3 separate regions of the Homo sapiens genome follow, and regions 1 and 3 are each linked to region 2. Evidence: fine-mapped expression QTL. A gene starts in region 2. Each other region holds a variant in brackets. All regions are shown on one strand. Distances are from middle to middle.

Region 1 (7,402 bases), 28 kb before region 2:
CCTTGGCCTTCCAAAGTGCTGGGATTACAGGTGGGAGACACTGTGCTTGGCCTTCCCACATACTTTAAATCATCTCTAGATTACTTAAAATACCTAATACAATGTAAATGCTATGTAGTTATTATATTTTTATTTTTATTTATTTGAGACAGAGTCTTACTCTGTTACCCAGGCTGAAGTGCAATGGCACAATCTTGGCTTACTGCAACCTCTGACTCCCAGGTTCAAGCGATTCTCTTGCCTCAGCTTCCCAAGTAGCTGGGATTACAGGCGCCCGCCACCACGCCCGGCTAATTTTTGTATTTTTATTAGAGACAGGGTTTCACCATGTTGGCCAGGCTGGTCTAGAACTCCTGACCTCAAGTACCTCAAGTGATCCGCCTGCCTTGGCCTCCCAAAGTGCTGAAATTACAGGCATGAGCCACCACCTGTAAAAATACGTATTTTTTTGAGACGGAGTCTCGTTCTGTGGCCCAATCTCAGCTCACTGCAGCCTCCACCTCCCAGGTTCCAGCGATTCTCCTGCCTCAGCCTCCCGAGTAGCTGGGATTATAAGCACGTGCCACCATACCTGCCTTATTTTTCTATTTTTAGTAGAGACGGGGTTTCACCAACTTGGCCAGGCTGGTCTTGAACTCCTGATCTCAGGTGATCCACCCGCCTCGGCCTCCCAAAGTGCTAGGATGAGAAGCATGAGCCACCGCGCTTGGCCAAAAATACTAATTTTTAAAAAATTTGCATTATTTAGTAATGTATTGCTATTTTTTGTGTTTTGTTTTTTTTCCTGAATATTTTTGATTGCAGATATGGAGGGTGACTGTATGCCGTGTTTCTTTCACCCTAATCTTTTGTACTCACTGGCCCCCTTGGCATGAATACCTTTTCATCTTATCTGGCCAACTCATTCTTACTCTTCAGGTTTCAACTTGGTTACCACCTCTCCTGGGAAGGCCTCCTGGCCAGCCCCCACCCCTTCTATCCTCCCCAACTCTATGCCATTTATCAGTAGGCTGCATGTTCATGGCCAGACTCCTGGTCTAGACTGCTTCATTGACCTCAGCCCAGGCAAAGCAGAGAATGTGCAAGTGAAGACACAAAGCAAATAAAGCTGGAAAAAGCCCTGGTTCTTGGGGCCTGACATGCCTCCTCCTATCTCTTGCACCTTCCCAGATGTGCCATCCTGCCCAGTGGCTCCGTGGGTTTTCAGCAGGCAGGCTGGTGGGAGAGGGCCTGGGGGGGCGGTGAGCCTCCCCAAGGGGTCAGGGCCAAGGGAGCAGGCCTTTCTGAGGCTTGAGGCACAACACAGGGCTTGAGTGTGGGCAGGACCTGGAGTCCTCCACAAGTGGGAGAGCAGGCAGCCCACACCTACCTCTTAAAGTACTCCACCTCTCGGTCAGTCTCATCCATCTCCACCCCGTCCATGTCCTTGGGCAGGAACACATCGTCTAGGAAGACACAGCCAGGAGGGCTCAGTGCCCATGGCCAGGCCTTTGGGGTTATGCTCTGGGGGCAGCGCTGTCTACACACAAAGGCTGCCCCTCCACCCCGTGGACTGGCTGGGGTAGGGGGTCAGCCGCTCAGTTCCTGGTGCACTCACCCAAGGAGGAGGCTGGCTTCTCCTGCTTGTTGCGGCTCCGGCGGCTGCGGCCCTTGCCCTGGGGCAAGCTCTGTGGCCTTGCTGGGCCTGAGGGCTGCACAGACTCCTGCTCCTGAGGCCGTGCCTTGGCCTCGCCTGGCCAGTTTCGCCAGGAGCTGCCCTTCTCCTTCTCAGTTTTGGGACTGCCAGCCCAACCTGGTCCTGGCCGGCTCCCCCGGCTCCCCTCTCCAGCCTCAGCACAGCTGCCTACTTTGGGAAGCTCTAGGACCCTGCCTGGCTGCTTGGGGCCAGCGACCTGGCCCTTGGCACTGGGAACCTCTAGGCTGGCTGGGGGCCGGGGGGCTGGGCTTGCCTCGCTCTTCTTGGCCTGACTGCCCTGCCTCTTGCCCTTCTGTGGCTTCCCACCTGAGGACACAGGCTCAGGCAGCTCCTGCTTGCAACTGGGAACTTCCTTTGAGCTTGGCTCCTCGGAGCTGGGGTAGCCCGGCTTGGGTGTCTTGACCCAGATCACCCGGGATAGGTTGGGCACGGTGTTGAGTCTCCTCACGAGCCCGTTCTCGGGGACGATACCGGGAGGGGGCCCCCTCACCTCTGTCCATGGTGGGTGGGGGCCTCTCATTTCTGCCCATGGTGGGGCTGGCTCGCCTGGAGCTTGTAACGTGTGGTTCTGAGGGGAGCCCAAAGTCAAAGGGGACAGGTCAAGGTTGATGTCAGGCTGCTGCTCTGAGGAGCCACTGAGGTTTGAGGGGGGTAGACTCTGAGGCTCAGGCTCAGCAGCCCCCTCCTTAGAGAAGCCATTGCTGTCCATGCTGAGCTCACACACACTGAAGCTGGCACGGATGGAGTCTTTGACAGTGTTTTTGATCTCCTGCAGACGGCTGCTCAGGAAGCTGTTGACCCGATCCAGTTCCCGGTCGGGCCACTCCAAGAGCCTCTCCCTGGCAGGCCTTGGCTCCCGGCTTCCAGAAACACGATTTGCCTGCTTTAGAGCTTCTGCTGCCAACTGGGCCTTCTCCTTTTCCTGCCAAGGCAAGAGGCAGTTTTAGCAGGAGGCTGTCAACTGCCAGGCACAATGTGATACCTGACCCATCAGCCTGGGGCCCAGCTTTGCCACTAACTTGCTGGAAGCAAAGCCTTAAAATCCTAGCCTGCTTACCCACCCTGCAGGAGTGAGGGCAAACTGCAGCCAGACAGGTACATGTCCTGGGGGCAGGGGTAGTCACACCCACAGAGGGTAGGGTTTTTACAGCTTGTTCACCCAGAGCCTCAGTTTCAGTGGACTAATCTGCAAAATGGGGACAATAATTCCGGAGTAAAGCCAAAGTGGGGATGCATGTGAAGACCACTACTAGAGAGGCATTCTCTCCACCCCTACGGGTGGTGGGGAAAAAGCCATGCCATCACGGGGTCTTACAGGAGGCAGGTGTGGGGGTAGATGAGATTACTCTGGTTGGGAGGGCATGTGCCTTCCTGATGCTATGTCTGGGTGTTACCAAAGAGGGCGGTGTTCCCGTAGAGAGGCCACTTGCTGCACATTTGGTCTCAAGTAATCAAGGTCACACCTAGAGTGTGCCCAATGGCATACCATGGACAAACACACTGGCCTACACAGCAAGATGTGAGAGCTGCTCCTTTGCCCAGGTGAGGCCTGGAAGGCTCAGAGAGGCCAGGCCCTGCCAGTTGGCTTTGACAGATCTGGATCTAGGGAATCAAAATGAAAGTCTGTGGGATCTCAGTCACCCCAACCTCTCCATCCCACCTCAAGGCCAACGATGCCTTTAGAGGGAGACAGGCGGCAGATAAAAAACCCTCGGGAAGGAGGTTGCTGTGGTGCGCCTGGCGCCATTGACTCCCACTGCCTCCTGTACTTCCAGCTGATTTGGGAATGGAGGAAGAGAAACATGAAAGGGCAGCTGGTGAGAGAAACCAGGGCTTGCTACCACCTC[G/A]GAGTCAATGTACAGAGGGTGACCCTGCGTCCCAGCAGGCACTTATCTTTTGTGAACCCTGGCTCCACAATGGACTACAGTCAATTGTTCTGTGGGACCTTGGACAAATCACTTATTCTCTCTGAACCTTACTTTTCCTATTTGTAAATTAGGAAGAAGAGGCATCTCTACATTCCAGGGTCAGTATGAGGACAGCTGAGAGTCTGTGTGGGGTCCTTTCCCATGTGCGAAGGTGGGGCTGGGCTTCGTGGCCCTCAGGGAGCAGCTTGGTCTGCAGCAGCTGCAGCAGCATTTCTAGCTGTGAGTAGGGCTCAGAGGCCCTGGGTTGGACCAACGAGGACCAAGGGCCCTTCACCTCGCTCCCCCAGCACCACACAGATTTCACAGAAAAGTTTGGCTGCTAAAAAAAAAAAAGTTTGACAACTGCTGGTGTGGAGGGAATGATATGGAACCATATACACTCTGGAAGCCAGAGGAGAAAGCACAGAAACACACACTTTCTGCTCTGTACCGTCAGCACTTCCCATAGATGTCTCCTTTAATCCTCGCCACTGTCTTTGCTGCATCATGACCCTCTGCTTATAGGTGAGAAACCTCGACTTTGGAAAGAACAGGAGGAGGAGGTGGCTAGGAAGTGGCAGAGCCAGGACAATACACCCAGGCCTGATCTTCAGAAGTTCCTATGTTTCTCAATTCCATCTGACAACCATTTACCGACCATTGAGGCTGTGAGGCAGCAGGCCAGGCCCTGTGAGTTTAGCGTACGTGAGACATTCTCTGCCTCGCTGACTTCAGTCTGCTGAGGGAGACAACAGCAAACAGCCTGTTGAATTCAGAGTGACAGTGACAAGTGCTGCATGGAAGAAAGCACGGGGTGATCTGGGAATCTAGAGGAGATGCTCCCAACACAGACTGGTTCACCAGGGAGTGCTTCCTGGAGGTGGGAGGATCTGCACTGAGCACAGAATGGGGAGTGGAATCATCCCGGAGGCAGTGAGACAAGCATTTTCTAGAGAGAAGGAATAGCAAGTGGAAAGGCTGGAAATGGGAAAGCTCAGTATCTTCTGGGAATGCAAATCATTCAGAGGTATAGCTGTAGCCCAGATTTTTTGGGGGATGTGGGGGTTGGGTGGGGCAGGTGGGCAGGAAGGTCAGAAAGGAGAGGCTGAGAGATAAAGCTGGCAGGGGCTGATCGTGAAGGGCCCTGCAGGCCCTACAGTGTTTGTGCCCGAGGGCAATGTCCAGCCACTGATGGCTTTTAAGGTAGTGGCAGTAGGGTGGAGAGCGGTGGACTGGTCTGAGCTATCAGCGATGTGGCATGGATAGGGCTTTTGGTGCTGGGTAGGGAGACAGAATGAGAAAAGTCAGAGAAACATTGATGGCCACTATGGCTGCCACAGCAGCCCCACTGCCTGAGAACTCACATGTGCCAGGCACTCTGCCTAACCTTTCCATGCATCGCTCCATTTCATCCCTGCAACAATCTACGACTTAGGTTCTGTTATTCTCATTTTATGGATGAAGAAACTGAGGCTTAGAGGTTAAGTGATTTGCCCAATGTCATACAGCAAGTGTGGCAGAGCCAAGTGTCAAACTGAGATCCAGTTCCAGGCATGCTATTCCAGGTCACTATGATGCACTCCCCAGGCGGGCGCCCAGTGCTCCGGCTCAGGCAACAGGGTGGGAGGCGGTGCCATTGACTAGACAGACAACAGAGAAGGGAAAGCAGGCCTGTTCGGAGAAAGACAACAAGCTGAACTTTGGATGTGCAGAGTCTGAGATACCTGTGGGACGTCCACAAGGAGGTGTCCAGTAGCAGTTGGAGACGTGGATGTACAGGGTGGGGAGGAAACACTATTGGGCTGTTTCTAGATGGCATCTCTTTCCCAGGGAGATGTCCCCATGAAGGAGGGTCAAGTGGAGGACGAGGAGCTCACAAAGGAGACAGAAAGGACGTCAGAGGGGCAGGCAAGACATCTGGAGAACATGGCACTCCCCTTGCCCTTTCCTGCCTGGCTGAGGACAGAGGAGCCCAAAGACAATGTGTGAAAAGGACAAACACAAATGCCAGATATTCTCTAGTGGACTAACACGATAGGAACAGCAGAGGAGGATGGATTTGGCAACAAAAAAGTCACCGGTGACTCTGGAGAGGGTGTGGGTAGAAAACCGCCTGCAATGAGCTAATGGGTGGAAGGGAAGACAGTGAATGCAGACATCATTTTTCAAGAAGTGTGGCTGTGATGAGAGGAAAGAGGCTGGGGAGGGGTTGAGAGAGAGGTAACAGGCTCAAGGAGCAGTTTGCTTCCAAAAAAGAGAATGGTGGACACAATGAAATGTGGACGGGAACAGCATGGAGGAGAGGCTAAGCTAGACCAGGAGCCTGCTGCTGGGCTGAGGGGTCAAGAAAGTACCGCACAGGCCTTAGGCGGGAAAAGGGTGACTCTCATGACAAGGAAGAAAGTATGTTTGCAGGTGGGAATGGCAAAACAGTGGGAGAATCCCTGTATAATGGCTTTTTTCCTCATTGAAATAAAAAGTGAGGCTATTTGCCAAAAAATAAGGTGTGGGCTCGGAAGGCCTAGCGGTTTGAGAAGACTGGAGGCCTGACAGAAGGACTGTGGGGAATGGACGTGCTAAGGTACAGGAAGCCCAGGGAACCATGAGAGGCCCGCCTGGCGACACGGGAACTCGGCAATCGGGAGCCCACGTGGCTGGCTGCCACAGATTCACTCATGTGCTTTTCTTGAGCTGTAGAAAGGGAGAGCCAGGCTGGGGTGGAACCCAGGGCTGCAGTGTTTCTGAGTGGGTCTGAAGGAAAGACAGCGGGACAAGGAATTGAGTACTGGTGAGTGAGTGAGTGAGTGATGGGTCAATTTGCCTGCCCTCCTACCAATACTTAGCAATGCTTACTCCATTCAAGTGAGTGAGAAACGGATTGACCTGGGAAGAAGAGAACGGGGCAGGAGAGTCTTCAGTGGATGTGGAGGAGTGGCAGGAGGTCACAGATGACAGAGCCAGGGGTGCAGTTTTTAAGAAGCAGGGTGTCTCTCTGCTCCCTTCTCCCACTGTCAGCCCATGACTCTCTCACCTTCGTGTAGACAGAAGACACAAAGACAAGGTGAGAGTGTCACGGGCTGGCAGTGGGAGAAGGGAGCAGAGAGACACTGAGCTCTTTCCATTTCCTGAGGCGGGAGAGAAGGAGCAGCTGGGCTTTGGTGGAGAGCCAGACTGTGAAGTCCAGGAGGTGGAAGGAGACAAGGGAGGAGGCTGCTGTCTACAGAGATAATGACCATAATCACTTGATGCATCACGCTGCCACTGTGTGTCTGTCCCTGCCTGCAGCCCCACGACTAAGTCTGGAAAGGCAGGGCTGCCTGGTTCTGCCTGGGCCTGCCAGACAGGAGCTGTGCAGTGTGGGATGAGTGAGCAGAGCCTCCAGATATATGAGGTAGGTTGGGAGTACAGTGGAAGTTACCCAAGGATGGCTATGAAGGAGGAAACAGCTGAACTGAACTTGGAAGGAAAGTTTGTCAGAAGAAAAGGTGAGAGAAGATAGCATTATCAGTAAAGGGGAAGAGACATCTGAGCACACATATTTACGAAAAGCACATCAGACTTGGGAACTGCCGGATGTGCTCTCTGGGGACCTAACTGGGAACCACTGTCCTAAGAAGCCAGGAAAGGCCAGAGACTACTGCAGCCCACTGAACCTTTCTGGCTAGGTGACTGCATGGGAGAAAGACAGTGCTGACCACCTTCAGAAGGCAGCGGTGGGACCCCTTGGCTCACTACTTCAGGCGGCGGGAGAAGGATCCTGGTTGTCCTTGGGGCTGAAAAAGGATGGTGAATCACTTCT
Region 2 (6,473 bases):
CTGCCCCCTCTCTTAGGTGAGGCGCTTCTATGTACTAGCTGCTGCATAGGTTGCTTCTCTTGTGAAGTATTATTATTATTTTAAAAGGAGACGGTGTTTCCCTCTCTCCCCCAGGCTGGGGTGCAGTGGCGTGCACATGAAGTCCTGGGTAACTTAATTCCTGGGTTCAAGCAATCCTCCCGCCTCAGCATCCCAACTAGCTGAGACTATAGGTGTGAACCCATGCCCAGCTAAGTTTTGATTTTTTTTTTTTTATAGAACCAGAGATCTCACTATGTCACCAATGCTGGTCTCAAACTTCTGGCCTCAAGAGATCCTCCTGCCTCAGCCTCCCAAAGTGCCGGGATTACAGGCGTGAGCCACCAAGGCCTCTTGTGAAGTTCCTGATGGGGTCAGAGAGAAGCAACTTGCGGAGTCACAAAGCTAGGAGGCTAAGCTGGGAATTCAATCCAAGTCTCTAAACACTATTCCCCACTGCCTCCTACAATTGCTTTTTCAGTTGTTCTTTATTTTTTTTTTTGTTTGTTTTGTTTTCCTTTGCTAATAAGGTAGTAACTGTTTCAGCCTTCTTGTGCTATAAACGAGGATTTGGGTTGTTAGGAAACAGATCAATGTGGTTTAGTGGCCTGAAACAATTGAAAGCCATTTGGGATCCCAATTAAACTCAAGGTCCTGCTTTAAATGTGTACAGGTTATGCCAATGAGTGAAGGGGCCTGGAAAGAACCAAAGATGCCTAAGGAGCATACGCTGTCTAAAAGGGCCAAATGCTACTCAGAGACTACTGATTACTGCCTTGTGGAAAAGTGGACCCAGCATCACCATATCTTTAGTTTAAAAAAGAGCCCCAAATCCAAATGTGTGGGAAACCTTTTGATCTTTAAAATATTGGCTCAAATGAAAATAAAAACAGAAACAAAACAATATGTGAGCTGGGGCATTACAACAAGCCTGTGGACTGGAAGTGGTCTTATTTGCCACCTTTGGATTCAGTTTGGTATATGACACTGAGTTTCATCTTCCTTATCCACTCTGTAGATGTAAGACAGGGTTATGAGTGGCAATGGGAGCCAGAGTTCCTCACCAAAAACACGCTTGTAGGCAGAGCAATGACTGAACCCTACCCTTACACTAGGTGCTTTGCACCAGGGCACAAAAGCCTGCTTCCAGACCCCACCCCCGGTCAAAGTGGGGCATAACTAGAACCGAATTTACCAGTTTGTTTCCCTTCTTTGGGGCTATAGTTTAAAAAAAAATGCCTTGTTGAAAATCCCCCAAAGTACCTAAAAGTCCTTTTCTTTTCTTTTGTCTGACACCTACAGTTGGAGTCATTTGGGCAAATGTTTAGTTGCTCTGAGTTTCTGTTTCTTCATCTGAAAAATGGAGTAATGATAATTATATCCTCCAGTTTGTTGATCAATATTTGTTAACCACCAGGCACAGGGGTACAATGGTGACTGACATGGCTCCTGAACTCGCAGAGTTCACAAATAAAAACAAATAATCACATCAATGGTCAATTCATCATATTTGTGCTAAACGCTGCGGAGAAATACAGGTGAGGTGGGAAGATTAGAAGTAAGGTATGTAAAGTGCCTGGCACAAATAAATGAATCAGCAGGTCAAGTAGTGGAGTAGGTAAGAACATGGTAGGAACCTAGATGTCAAAGAAATTGATGAAGCTTAGAGCTCTTGGCAAAGTTGTGTCCTTAATAAAAACTGAATGGTTGAGCCATCATCCAAGCTTTTTGGCATCTCTATGTGGCAGAGACCCTGAAGTATTCTATGGTCTGCTGAATGGGAAGAAGAGAAGACAACAGCTTTCCAGCTCTCCCTTCTCCCACTCTCCCTTTTTGGATAACAGCACTCCCACGGGGGTCCCAGAGTAGGCTGGTGGGGGAAGCAGCTTTGGGGTTGGAAGCTAGACCCAGTAGGGGTTGGGGGTCCAACCTGGGGAGTCTCCTACGGAAGTGTCAGCCTAGGATAGGAGATGGGGATGCGGATGAAGGTGGAGCTTCTGACACTCAGTAAGTGCTGACATTTTCATTAATTAAAAACCTTATTGTGATCTGAGACACAAAGGAAATCAGCATGAAAACTGGGTTACAATAAGCACGGGTTCTGGACCGATTCATTTTCTCTCTCATTCACCTAGTTATTTTTATTCTGTGTTAGCAAGGCCCTGGGCGAGGCGTGGAAGATCAGAGAAAGATGGCATAGCCTGTGTCCCTGTGGAGTTCACAGTCCAGGGCAGGCAACAGACATATCAACACAATGTTTCATCACAGAAAGGGGAGTGCTACCAGAGGGAGGCACAGAGGGCTGTGGGCACAGAGAGGGCACCTGACGCAACTGGGGAGGTCAGGGGAGGCTTTGTGGGAAGGTACCCCAAACGGCAACCCCACTCACATGCACAATTCCAGAGATTCTACTAGAAGGCTGTCAAGAGCCATGCCTTCTGGCTGCACCAGCCTCCCAGAGTCCCCTGCTGCCCGATGCAGTGTCTGCAGAGCCAAACGCATCTTCCGCCACGCCTCATCCTCATCCGGCGCCGCATCCGACCCTCCAAGACTCCTGCAGGAGCCTGCCTTCCTGGGCAGGCTCAGCCAAAAGACCAACTCAAAACTCTTTTGTCAGAGCAAGCTTAGGGAGAGCCACCCAGCCCCGAGTGCCACAACCCTCCCAGAGCAACCGTGGCCCATGTCACCCCCGCCTCTCAGTGAACTTTGGCAGGGTACCTCCCGTTATCTCCTTTGCTCAAAAGAAAGTGACCTTCTTCCAGGTGGCAAGCTGGAAGCTTTGGGGAATCCTCCTACTGTTCGCTCTCAGCAGGATTCTCCAAACCTGGGATCTCAAGGTCGGGGTGGGCTGCCTTGCGGAGCAGGGGAGGGAAGAAGGGCAGGTTCTGCTGGGTTTCCACCTCAGTGCAGAAACCCCACCAAAAACTCCTCCGGGCAGCCTGGCTGTCTGCTCCAACTGCTCTGCTGGGTATGGCGAGGAGGCGCCAGGAGACACAGCTGCTGAGGGGGCCGCGGCTGCAGGCGCTGCAGGGGACGGAGTGGAGCCGTTCCCGGGGGCAGAGGGAAGAGGCTGCAGTCGTCCAGTCCCAGAGCCCCGAGATGGCCTGTGGCTGAGGGAGCAGGTGGGCCCGGGGGAGGTGGCGGGCCGAGAGCGGAGCTGCGGCCTCGGGATCACAGCCCAGTCCCAGTCCCAGTCCCAGTGTGGGTGTACGGCCGGAACGCCCGGAGGCGGCGGGGAGAGGGGAGCAGCTTCAGCCTAGTCGCAGGAGCGCGGACCGAGCCTCGGCTTTGGGGAGAGGGGTCCAGCCTCCATTCCCGCCCCGGGGGAGAAAGCTTCGGCGCCGGACCCGGGGGAAGGCTGCTACCCCAGCCGCGGCAGGATGGCCCATCCCCAACCCCGCCCCACTCCCGCTCCCGCTCGGGGAAGGTGAAAGCGCCCGAGCCGCCGAAGTCTCCCCGCTCGCTCCTACCTGCGGGCCGGGCACCAGGTTGGGTTCGTCATCCTCCCTGGGGCCGTCGTGGTCGGGCTCCGCCGGCGCCTCCGGAGGGCCTGCACCCGCTCCCGCCTCCAGGCTTGGCGGCGGCGGGGGCTCGGGCGCCTGGGGCTTCTGCGGCCCCGCGGCCCGAGCCCGCTCGCGCCTGCCCGCACCGCCGCTCGGCCTGCTCCGCCTCCGCGTCATGCCGCCGCTCGCGCCGCTCCCTCGCTCCACACGCCGCCGCCGCCGCCGCCGCCGCCGCCGCCGCCGCCGCCGCTACCGCTCCCCTCACAGGACAACAGCCAATATGGCGGCGCCCGGTTCCCCCCCTCCGCCTGCTGCCAACAGGTCAGAGGGCACGCGGAGTCCGCGCCGCCGCACTAGCCCCCGAGGCCGCCTGCGCCATTTTGAATAAGGTCACCACCCGGAGTTCGCTGGGAGAAAAACTTGGTGGGGAGACGCCCTTCCCCCCCTACGCGGGACGGGAAGGATGCAACCTGCTGGAGGAACGCGTGTAATGCGGTGGTAATCGCGCTGCACCACCCTAGCACTTAATAATTGCCTGTTAAATGGATGAGTGAATTAATTTCTATAGTGTTACAATACTTTCACACCCATCGTCTGACTCCTTCCGACAGCACAGCGAGGCAGGTACGGATCATTCCCATTTTGCAGGTGAGAAATATTGAGGCAACATAAAGGCCTGGAAAAGGTTGCTGTACATCATTTTGTTGGAACTCCTGGGCTCGTGGACGGCCTGAGTTGAAAGGGACGAAGGTCTTTATTTGCAACATATGGTCTACTGGGAGTCCAGCGTTCTGTGCTTGGGACAGTGGGACTCAAACCCGACTCCTTGTTCCCGAGTCTGATGGGGAAGGTAGACACGTAGGTACATAGTTACAACCGGTGTGATAACGATGAGACGACTAGGTGTTTCCAAAAAAATAGTATGTGCAGGAGAGGATTTTGGAGTGGTACACAAAGGAGAATTTTTAAAACTTAATAATTATGTATTTAATTGTTAAAAATGGAATTTCCCCCCTCTTTTTGTGAATATACTGTATAATACATGTACATGGCACAGATTAAAAAAAAAAAGTTTTGAGTGAAGTCTGTCTCATGCCTGGGCTATGTACTCTGAAATTGTGGTTATATGCAGAGTTGCTATTGGTATCAACAGGGGCGGAATCCTGACACTGGCTTCCTAACCCATGGGGCAAGGGCTATTTTGAAAGGAAGAGCTACATGGAAGGCCCTGGAGCTCTCCTTAACTACCAAGAAAATAAATCAAAAATAGTACCTTATCTCACCCAGGGATTAATGCCACTATCAAAGATTTGAAAGACGCAGGGTGAGTCCCATCACATCACCATTACCTCTTCAGTTTGCCCAGAACAGAAGAGAGACGGCCTTGAAGAACAACAGAGCATTATGATAAACTTACTTATTCTGGTAAGAACCCCAACTGCAGGCATTCTTCCAGATGCGGTCCTTCTTGGGACAGATCAGCACAGTTGTTGGTCTCTAATAGGCAACAAGAGGTCTGGTCAATGGTTATTCTTCTGTACCAAACACCAGGAATCCCTTGCATTGATCTGGCAGGGGCAGCGGTAAACCCTCACTGTCTTGCTTCAGGGTATGTCACACTCTGGACCCAGCCACTTAGTTTACAGGGATTTTTTTTTTTTTTTTTTTTAATGACAGAGTCTCACTCTATCTCCCAGGCTGGAGTGCAGTGGCGCAATTTCAGCTCACTGCAACCTCCGCCTCCTGGGTTCAAGGGATTCTCGTGCCTCAGCCTCCAGATTAGCTGGGATTAGAGGCACATGCTACCACGCCCCCTAATTTTTTTGTATTTTTAGTAGAGACGGGGTTTCCCCGTATTGCCCAGGCTGGTCTCGAATTCTTGACCTCAGGTGATGCACCTGCCTCGGCCTCCCAAAGTGCTAGGATTACAGGCGGAGCCACTGCACCCTGCCAGTTTACAGGGATTTTTTTTACTAAATCTCCATTCTAATGGATATCAGGCTAATCTGCTGAGGCACTGATGACATCATCTTGATGGACCTTAAGAAAAGGGAATAGCAGATATCCTGGATGATTTGGTAAGGCATGATGTGTGTGCCAGAGGATGGATAATAAATCTCACAAATATATAGGGGCCTCGCAGTAAGCCATCTAGGAGTCTGGGATATGTTGAGATATTTCGTACAAAGTGAAGGGAAAGCTGCTGTAGATCACACTCCCTACTAGGGAAGAGGTGCAATACTTGGGCTGGGGCTTCTTTAGACTTGGTAGGTAACATAGATGTATTTCGATACATTATTATTATTATTATTATTATTATTATTATTATTATTATTATTATTATTTTGAGATGGAATCTCTGCCACCCAGGCTGGAGTGCAGTAGCGGGATCTCTGCTCACTGCAACCTCTGCCTCCCGGGTTTGAGTGATTCTCCTGCTGGCCTCCGGAGTAGCTGGGGTTACAGGCGCGCACCACCATGCTCAGCTAATTTTTGTATTTTTAGTAGAGACAGGGTTTCACCATGTTGGTCAGGCTTGTCTCGAACTCCTGACCTCCTGAACCTCCGGCCTCAGCCTCCCAAAGTGTTGGGATTACAGGCATGAGCCACCGCGCCCGGCCTGTACTTAGGTACGTTATTTTGACCAGTTACTGGGTCACTTGAAAGCTGCCAACTTTAAGGCAGGATCATACAAAAAGAGAAACTTTTCTTAGTGGACCAGGCTGCAGAGTAAATAGTTCTGGCTTTGGTCTTAATACTCAAGCATTGGATTTTGGAGCAAACTTATGCTTTCCTTCAGCAAATAGTTATATTCCATTTTAGAAATAGCTCCTGGCTTGCTTCAGGGGTCTGGTGAAATTGGATGCCTGATCCTGGCCTACTAGGTGACCACGTGACCTGAACTGAGTGTTATCTGATCTACTCAGCCATAAAATCAGGGGTGCTCAGCAA
Region 3 (7,402 bases), 130 kb before region 2:
CTCGCTCTTGTCGCCCAGGCTGGAGTGCAATGGCACGATCTTGGCTCACTTCAACTTCCGCCTCCCGGGTTCAAGCAATTCTCCTGCCTCAGCCTCCCAAGTAGCTGGGATTACAGGTGCCTGCCACCACACCCGCCTAATTTTTGTATTTTTAGTAGAAACGGTTTTCACCATGTTGGCCAGGCTGGTCTTGAACTCCTGACTTCAGGTGATCCACCCACCTCGCCCTCCCAAAATGCTGGGATTACAGGCATGAGCCACCGCACCCGGCCAAATTTAATTAATTTAAGTAGCCACATGTGACTAGGTGCTACCATGTTGGACAGTGCAGCTCCTGATGGAAGCAGGAAGAAGCTCAGCGTGTGGCTGCTGGTGCACACCGAATGAGAAGGAGAGGGCATGAAATAACGCTGGAGAGGGAAGCAGGGCCCGGATCAAGTTGGGCCATTGTGGGCCACGGGGAAGAACATAGGGTTTTTAACATTTTAATTGTTTATTTTTTGTAGAGCTAAGTCTCACTATGTTGTTGCCCAGGCTGGCCTTGAAATCCTAGGATCAAGTGAGCCTCCCACCTCATCCTCCCAAGTAGCTGGGACTACAGGAGGTTTTTTTAAATTATTATTTATTTATTTATTTATTTTTTTGGAGACAGTTCTTGCTCTGTTACCCAGGCTGGAGTGCAATGGTATGATCATGGCTCACTGCAGCCTCAAGGAGGTTTTATTTTTTAAGTGTAATGAGAAGTGTATTAATTATCTATGGCTGCATAACAAATTGTCCCAAAATTTAGCAGCTTAAAATGACATTTATGGAGACTGATTTCAATGATAACTCCAGTTCTCTCACGTGGGCCAGCCTCACATCAATTAAACTCTTTTTTTTTTTTTTTTTTTGAGACAGAGTCTCGCTCTGTTGCCTAGGCTGGAGTGTATAGTGACACGATTTTGGCTCACTGCAACCTCTGCCTCCTAGGTTCAAGGGATTCTCCTGCCTCAGCCTCCCAAGTAGTTGGGACTACAAGTGCCCACCACAACACCTGGCTAATTTTTATATTTTTAGTAGAGATGGGGTTTCACTATGTTGGCGAGGCTAGTCTCGAACTCCTGACCTCATGATTGGCCTGCCTTGGCCTTCCAAAGTGCTGGGATTACAGGCGTGAGCCACTGCTCCTGGCCAATTAAGCTTTTATTTTATTTTTTTGAGACAGAGTTTCTCTCTTGTTGCCCAGGCTGGAGTGCAATGGCACGATCTCGGCTCACCGCAACCTCTGCCTCCCGGGTTCAAGCAATTCTCCCGCCTCAGCCTCCTGAGTCGCTGGGATTACAGGCATGTGCCACCACGCCTGGCTAATTTTGTATTTTTAGTAGAGATGGGGTTTCTCTATATTGGTCAGGCTGGTCTTGAACTCCTGACCTCAGGTGATCCACCCACCTTGGCGTCCCAAAGTGCTGGGATTACAGGTGTGAGCCACCACTCCCGGCCATAAACTCTTTTTAAAAAAGATATTTATGGGTCACAGTTTCTATGGGTCAGGAACCCGGCACTTTTTAACTGAGTGCCACTGGATCAGCATCTCTCACAAGGCTGCATCGGAGGGTCAGCTGAGGCTGCCGGGGGAAGGATCCACTTCCAAGTTCACTTACAAAGCTGTTGGCTAGAGACATCAGTTGCCTGCCACATAGGGTCTCTCCATCTCACAACCTAACAGGTGGTTTCTCTCAGACTGAGCCAGTGAGGGAGCAAGAGGAGTTACGTAAGATGGTAGCCACAATCTTTTAGTAATCTCATGTTGGAAATGACATTCCATCACTTTGGCTGCATTCCTTCCATTGGAAGTGAGTCAAGCTGGGTGCCATGGCTCATGCCTGTAATCCCAAGACTTTAGGAGGCCAGGGAGGGAGGATTGCTTGAGCCAGGAGTTTGAGACCAGCCTGGGCAACAGAGGGAGACCCTATCTCTACAAAAAAATTAATTAGTTGGGTATGGTGGCATGCGCATGTAGTCCCAGCTACTCGGGAGGCTGATGTAGGCTGATCGATTGGGCCCAGGAGGTGGAGGCTGCAGTAAGCTGTGATCGAGCCTGAGTGACAGAGCAAGACCCTGTCTCTTAGGGAAAAAAAACGTGGCCCGGCCCAGTGGCTCACGCCTGAAATCCCAGCACTTTGGGAAGCCGAAGCAGGCAGATCACCCAAGGTCAGGAGTTTGAAACCAGCCTGGCTAACATGGTGAAACCTCATCTATACTAAAAATACAAAAATTAACCAGGCGTAGTGGGCAGCGCCTGTAATCCCAGCTACTCCGGAGGCTGAGGCAGGAGAATTGCTTAAACCCGGGAGGCGGAGTTTGCAGTGAGCCGAGATTGCACCACTGCACTCCAGCCTGGGCGACAGAGCGAGACTCTGAAAAAAAGAAAAGGCCGGGGGCAGGCCAGGCCTGGTGGCTCACGCCTGTAATCCCAGCACTTTGGGAGGCAGAGATGGGCAGATCACTTGAGGTCAGGAGTTCAAAACCAGCCTGGCCAACATGGTGAAACCCCATCTCTACAAAAATTAACTGGGCGTAGTGGCACGCGCCTGTAGTCCCAGCTACTCGGGAGGCTGAGGCAGGAGAATTGCTTGAACCTGGGAGGCAGAGGTTGCAGTGAGTGGAGATCAAGCCACCGTACTCCAGCCTGGCAACAGAGCGAGACTTCCACAGAGCGAGACTCCATCTCAAAAACAAAAAAAAAGAAAAAAAGAAAAAGAAAAAATGCCGGGTGTAGTGGCTCACACCTGTAATCCCAGCACTTTGGGAGACCGAGACGGGCGGATCAGGAGTTTGAGACCAGCCTGGCCACATGGTGAAACCCCGTCTCTACTAAAAATACAAAAAATTAGCCAGGCGTGGTGGTGAGTGCCTTTAATTCCAGCTACCCGGGAGGCTGAGGCAGGAGAATTGCATGAACCCAGGAGGTGGAGGTTGCAGTGAGCTGAGATCATGCCATTGCACCCCAGCCTGGGTAAGGAGAGCAAAACTCCATCTCAAAAAAAAAAAAAGTGAGTCAGGAGGTCCACCTGACACTTAAGGGGATCTTAAGGCTGTGAATACCAGGAAGAAGCAGAGATCCACGGACCAGGAAGAAGCAGAGATCCACGGACCAGGAAGAAGCAGAGATCCACGGACCAGGAAGAAGCAGAGATCCACGGACCAGGAAGAAGCAGAGATCCACGGACCAGGAAGAAGCAGAGATCCGTGGTGGCAGGGGTACCTTAGAGGTTGCCTACCACAGGCAGCCACTGGAGAGTTCTGAGTAAGAGTGACAGGATCCGGCTGATTGTTTTTAAGACAGGCCATCCAGTCACACAATGCAAGATTAAAGGTGCAAAAAGGGAGGTGAAAAACCTCCCTCCCACCCCCATCCCCAGCCATTTAACTACCCCTTCCCAGATGCAAGCAGCATTTCTGCTGCCTCACGTGGCCTTCCCAAGGTGGCAACATATATATAAGCAAAACTGTCTGTGGTGGTTGTTAGTGTTGTTCACCAAACATTTCCAATTCTTTTATCCTTCCAGGCCTATAGGAGTGATGCCAGGTACCTGCTTCTGCATTATAAACTACTCCAAACTTAGTGGCCTGTTTTATCATGCTCATGGATTCTGTGGGTCAGGAATTCAGGCAGGACTCAGCAGGGAAGATGCCAGGGACCTCAGCTGGATACTTGCATGGCTGGGGGTGACTCAAATTGCCAGGGGTTAGAATTATCATATGGAGGCTTCTTCACTCACATGTCTGGTGCTGGGGGTGGGATGACTGGATCATCCCAGCGTCCTGGGCTCAGCTGGGATTGTCAACCACAGTAGAGCACACACATGTGGCCTCTCCATTTGGCTAGGGCTTCTCACAGCAGCAGCTGACTGTGAGGAAAGAGCCCAAGAGGACAGTTCTGGGGAGCCGGCATTTTATGACAGCCAGGCCATATGGCCTTTCCTGACCTGGCCTCAGACTTCACTCTGCATCATTTCCACCATATTCTACCGATGACAAGAGAGTCATTAAGGTCAGACCAAATTCAAGGGGAGGGAAATTAAACTCTATCTCTTGCTGTGGGGGTGGCAAGGTTCCATTGCAGAGGTGCCCATGGGATGGGAATGCATTGTTACACTCATCTTTAGAAAATATAATCTGCCATAGTAATGTTGTGTCTCCCCACTCCTTTATTTATTTATTTATTTATTGAGACAGAGTCTCACTCTATCTCCCAGGCTGGAGTGCAGTGGAACGATCTCGGCTCACTGCAGCCTCTGCCTCCTGAGTTCCAGCGATTCTCCCACCCCAGCCTCCCAAGTAGCTGGGACTACAGGTGCACAACACCACGCCTGGCTAATTTTTGTATTTTTAGTAGAGACAGGTTTTCACCATGTTGGCCGGTCTGGTCTCAAACTCCTGACCTCAGGTGATCCACCAGCCTTGGCCTCCCAAAGTGCAGGGATTACAGGCATGAGCCACCATGCCAGCCCTTCTCCCCACCCCTTGAAAGCTACTTGTGGCCATGTGGTTTGCTTTGACCAATGAAATGTGAGCAGAAGTGACTTGTGTCACTTTTGGGTGCGAGCTTTAAGGACTATTGTATGATTTACCAAA[T/C]TTCCCATTTCCTTTCACCACCTGCCATTGTAGAAGCACAAACTGCAATGAAGCCCCTACTACGCTGGGGCCCTGAGTGACTACTATGTGTAGTGCCACCCCACCACCCAACAAGCTGTGTTAGACATGTGGTGTATGCAGGAAATGAACTTTTGTTGCTTTAGGTCACTTAAACTTGGGATTGTTTGTTACTGCAGCAGAACCTAATCTATCCAGACCCTTCCTTTTTTTTGAGACAGAGTCTCACTCTGTCACCCAGGCTGGAGTGCAACATCTCTGCTTACTGCAACCTCTACCTCCTGGGTTCAACCAATTCTCCTGCCTCAGCCTCCTGAGTAGCTAGGATTACCATTCCCAGCTAATCTTTGTGTTTTTTAGTAGAGATGGGCTTTCCCCATGTTGGCCAGGCTGGTCTTGAACTCTTGACCTCAGGTGATCCGCCCGCCTCGGCCTCCCAAAGTGCTGGGATTACAGGCTGAGCCACTGTGCCCAGCCCAGACACTTCTTATGCAAGCCTTACACACTGTTCTGCACCCTGATTTTTTCCACTTAACAATATATCTTGGAGATTGTTTATATCAGTATACAAGCACTTCCACGCTTTTTTTTTAAATAGCTACATCGTATTCCTGGGTAGGAAAGGACATTTTACTTAATCAGTCTCTATTAAGGACAATTAGTATGATCCATCTTTTTGGACAATGCTGCAATGAATAGCCTTAAACATTTCTTTTTTTTTTTTTTTTTTTGAGACAGAGTCTCACTCTGTCATCCACGCTGGAGTGCAGTGGCACAATCTCCGCTCACTGCAACCTCTGCACCTGGCTAAGTTTTGGACTTTTAGTAGACATGGGGTTTTGCCATGTTGGCCAGGCTGGTCTTGAACTCCTGGTCTCAAGTGATCCTCCCGCCTCTGCCTCCCAAAGTATTGGGATTACAGGTGTGAGCCACCAGGCCCCACCAGCCTTAAGCATTTCTTATTTTGCTTGAGTGCAACGATATTTGTTTCTTTTGAGACAGAGTCTTACTCTGTCCCCCAGGCTAGAGTGCAATGGCACGATCTCAGTTCACTGCAACCTCCGTCTCCCAGGTTCAAGCGATTCTCCTGCCTCAGCCTCTCAAGTAGCTGGGATTACAGGCACCCGCCACCACACCTGGTGAATTTTTTTAAATTTTAGTAGAGATAGGTTTTGCCATGTTGGCCAGGCTGTTCTCAGACTCCTTCCCTCGTGATCCACCCACCTCGGCCTCCCAAGGTGCTAGGATTACAGGCGTGAGCCACAGCACCCGACTAAGTGCAATGATATTTGTAAGATAGATTCCTAGATGTGCACATCTCAGATGGTTGGTGGCAGATTTTCCCTCTTATTTATTTATTTATTTTTGAGATGGAGTCTCGCTCTGTTGCCCAAGCTGGAATGCACTGGCATGATCTTGGCTCACTGCAACCTCCACCTCCAGGGCTTAAGCGATTCTCATGCCTCAGCCTCCTGAGTAGCTGGGACTACAGGCCCGCACCACCATGCCCGGCTAATTTTTTATATTTTAGTAGAGATGGGGTTTCACCATGTTGGCCAGGGTGGTCTCGAACTCCTGAGCTCAGGTGATCAGCCTGCCTTGGCCTCCCAAAGTTCTGGGATTACAGGCATGAGCCACCATGCTTAGCCAATTTTCCCTTTTAAAAATATCACTTTGGCTGTAGGTGGAAAATGGCTTAAAGAGCTGGAACGAAATTTCCTGAGTGACATCTCCTCTTCACCTCTTATCTATTGCCATGTCCTGTTCATGCCAGCTACATGCCAGGTCTCCATCTGTCCACCTGTCTGCATGTCCTGGCCACTGCCCCAGCATAGGGCACCATCATTCCTCTCTCTAAAAGTTCCTTCTAAAAGGTCTCTCACCTGTCTTAGGATACTTGGCTTGCAGACAAGGAAGCCAATTCTGAGTAACTAAGCAGATGAGGAATGGATGGGGCAGCCTGGGGGGCTTGCTGAATCCCCCTCCCCCAGGAAGGGCCTAGCTTGACTGCCTTCCTTGCCTCCCCCAACCTCCACGGCCTCCACAGTGAATTCTAAATGATCCCCCTGATGTCTTGTGCCGGTCACATGCTCTAGATTCAAAGACCTGGTTGGAAACATTGGAATTGTGCTCCAGCTACCAGAGACCTGGGAGAAAAAATTCTACCTCCCTTCTTTGATTTCCTGAGTTGAAGGCAGGGTCTGCCTCCACATCTCATAGGATTCTTCTCAAACGGGAAGGGCTTCAGATGTTGGGAACTAAAACAACAACAAGCCAGCCCCCTCCCCTCAGCTTATCCTTCACAGTGCAGCCCAGAGCTCTCTATGAAAGCAAATCTGATCACCCTACTCAAAACCTCCGTGAGAGCTCCCTACCACCTTCAAGACGAAGTCCAAAATTCCTTAGGTGGCTCTCAAGGCCCTCCCTGATCCAGGCCCCTCCTGAGACTTCAGCCTCATTTCTTGCCCCCATGTCGACCCCATTGTGTACCACTGTGTACCTTTAAACCCCAGCTGGATGCTTAGGTGCTGAACGCAGGAGCCCTTCCTGACTTCCTCTACGGAACTTCGAACATGTGATACCCCTCTGTCCAGAAGGCTCTTTCCCTCCCTACTCCAGTAACCTGCACATTTTCACTGAATCTTCAGATTTCACTTGGACACAACAGCCTTCACTAAGTGAGGTACCTGCCCTATGTTCCACTGGGCCCTGGGTTTCCCTTTTTTTTTTTTTTTTTTGAGACGGAGTCTCACTCTGTTGCCCA

Evidence for each region. PIP is the estimated chance that this variant, and not a neighbour inherited with it, causes the effect.
Region 1: its variant is fine-mapped to the expression of FAM193B in whole blood (TOPMed, PIP above 0.99).
Region 3: its variant is fine-mapped to the expression of FAM193B in whole blood (TOPMed, PIP above 0.99).

What each region holds. Positions count from the first base shown.
Region 1 is chr5:177,522,588-177,529,989 of GRCh38, forward strand. It overlaps FAM193B (family with sequence similarity 193 member B), which reads right to left. Exons shown (of 9, transcript NM_001190946.3): 6 at 1,598-2,618; 7 at 1,370-1,445. Among named protein-coding and RNA genes, the nearest start is that of DDX41, 9.3 kb to the left of the region's middle. The variant G/A (reference allele first, on the strand shown) is at 3,544.
Region 2 is chr5:177,550,761-177,557,233 of GRCh38, forward strand. It overlaps FAM193B (family with sequence similarity 193 member B), which reads right to left and starts at 3,803. Exons shown (of 9, transcript NM_001190946.3): 1 at 3,489-3,803. The coding sequence starts at 3,698. FAM193B-DT (FAM193B divergent transcript) reads left to right here and starts at 3,868. Exons shown (of 3, transcript XR_941274.3): 1 at 3,868-4,169. RefSeq lists silencers at 2,972-3,081, 3,412-3,621, enhancers at 3,502-4,005, 3,732-3,891, 3,912-4,061 and a cis regulatory region at 6,224-6,473.
Region 3 is chr5:177,417,477-177,424,878 of GRCh38, forward strand. No RefSeq gene overlaps it. Among named protein-coding and RNA genes, the nearest start is that of GRK6, 5.5 kb to the right of the region's middle. The variant T/C (reference allele first, on the strand shown) is at 4,621.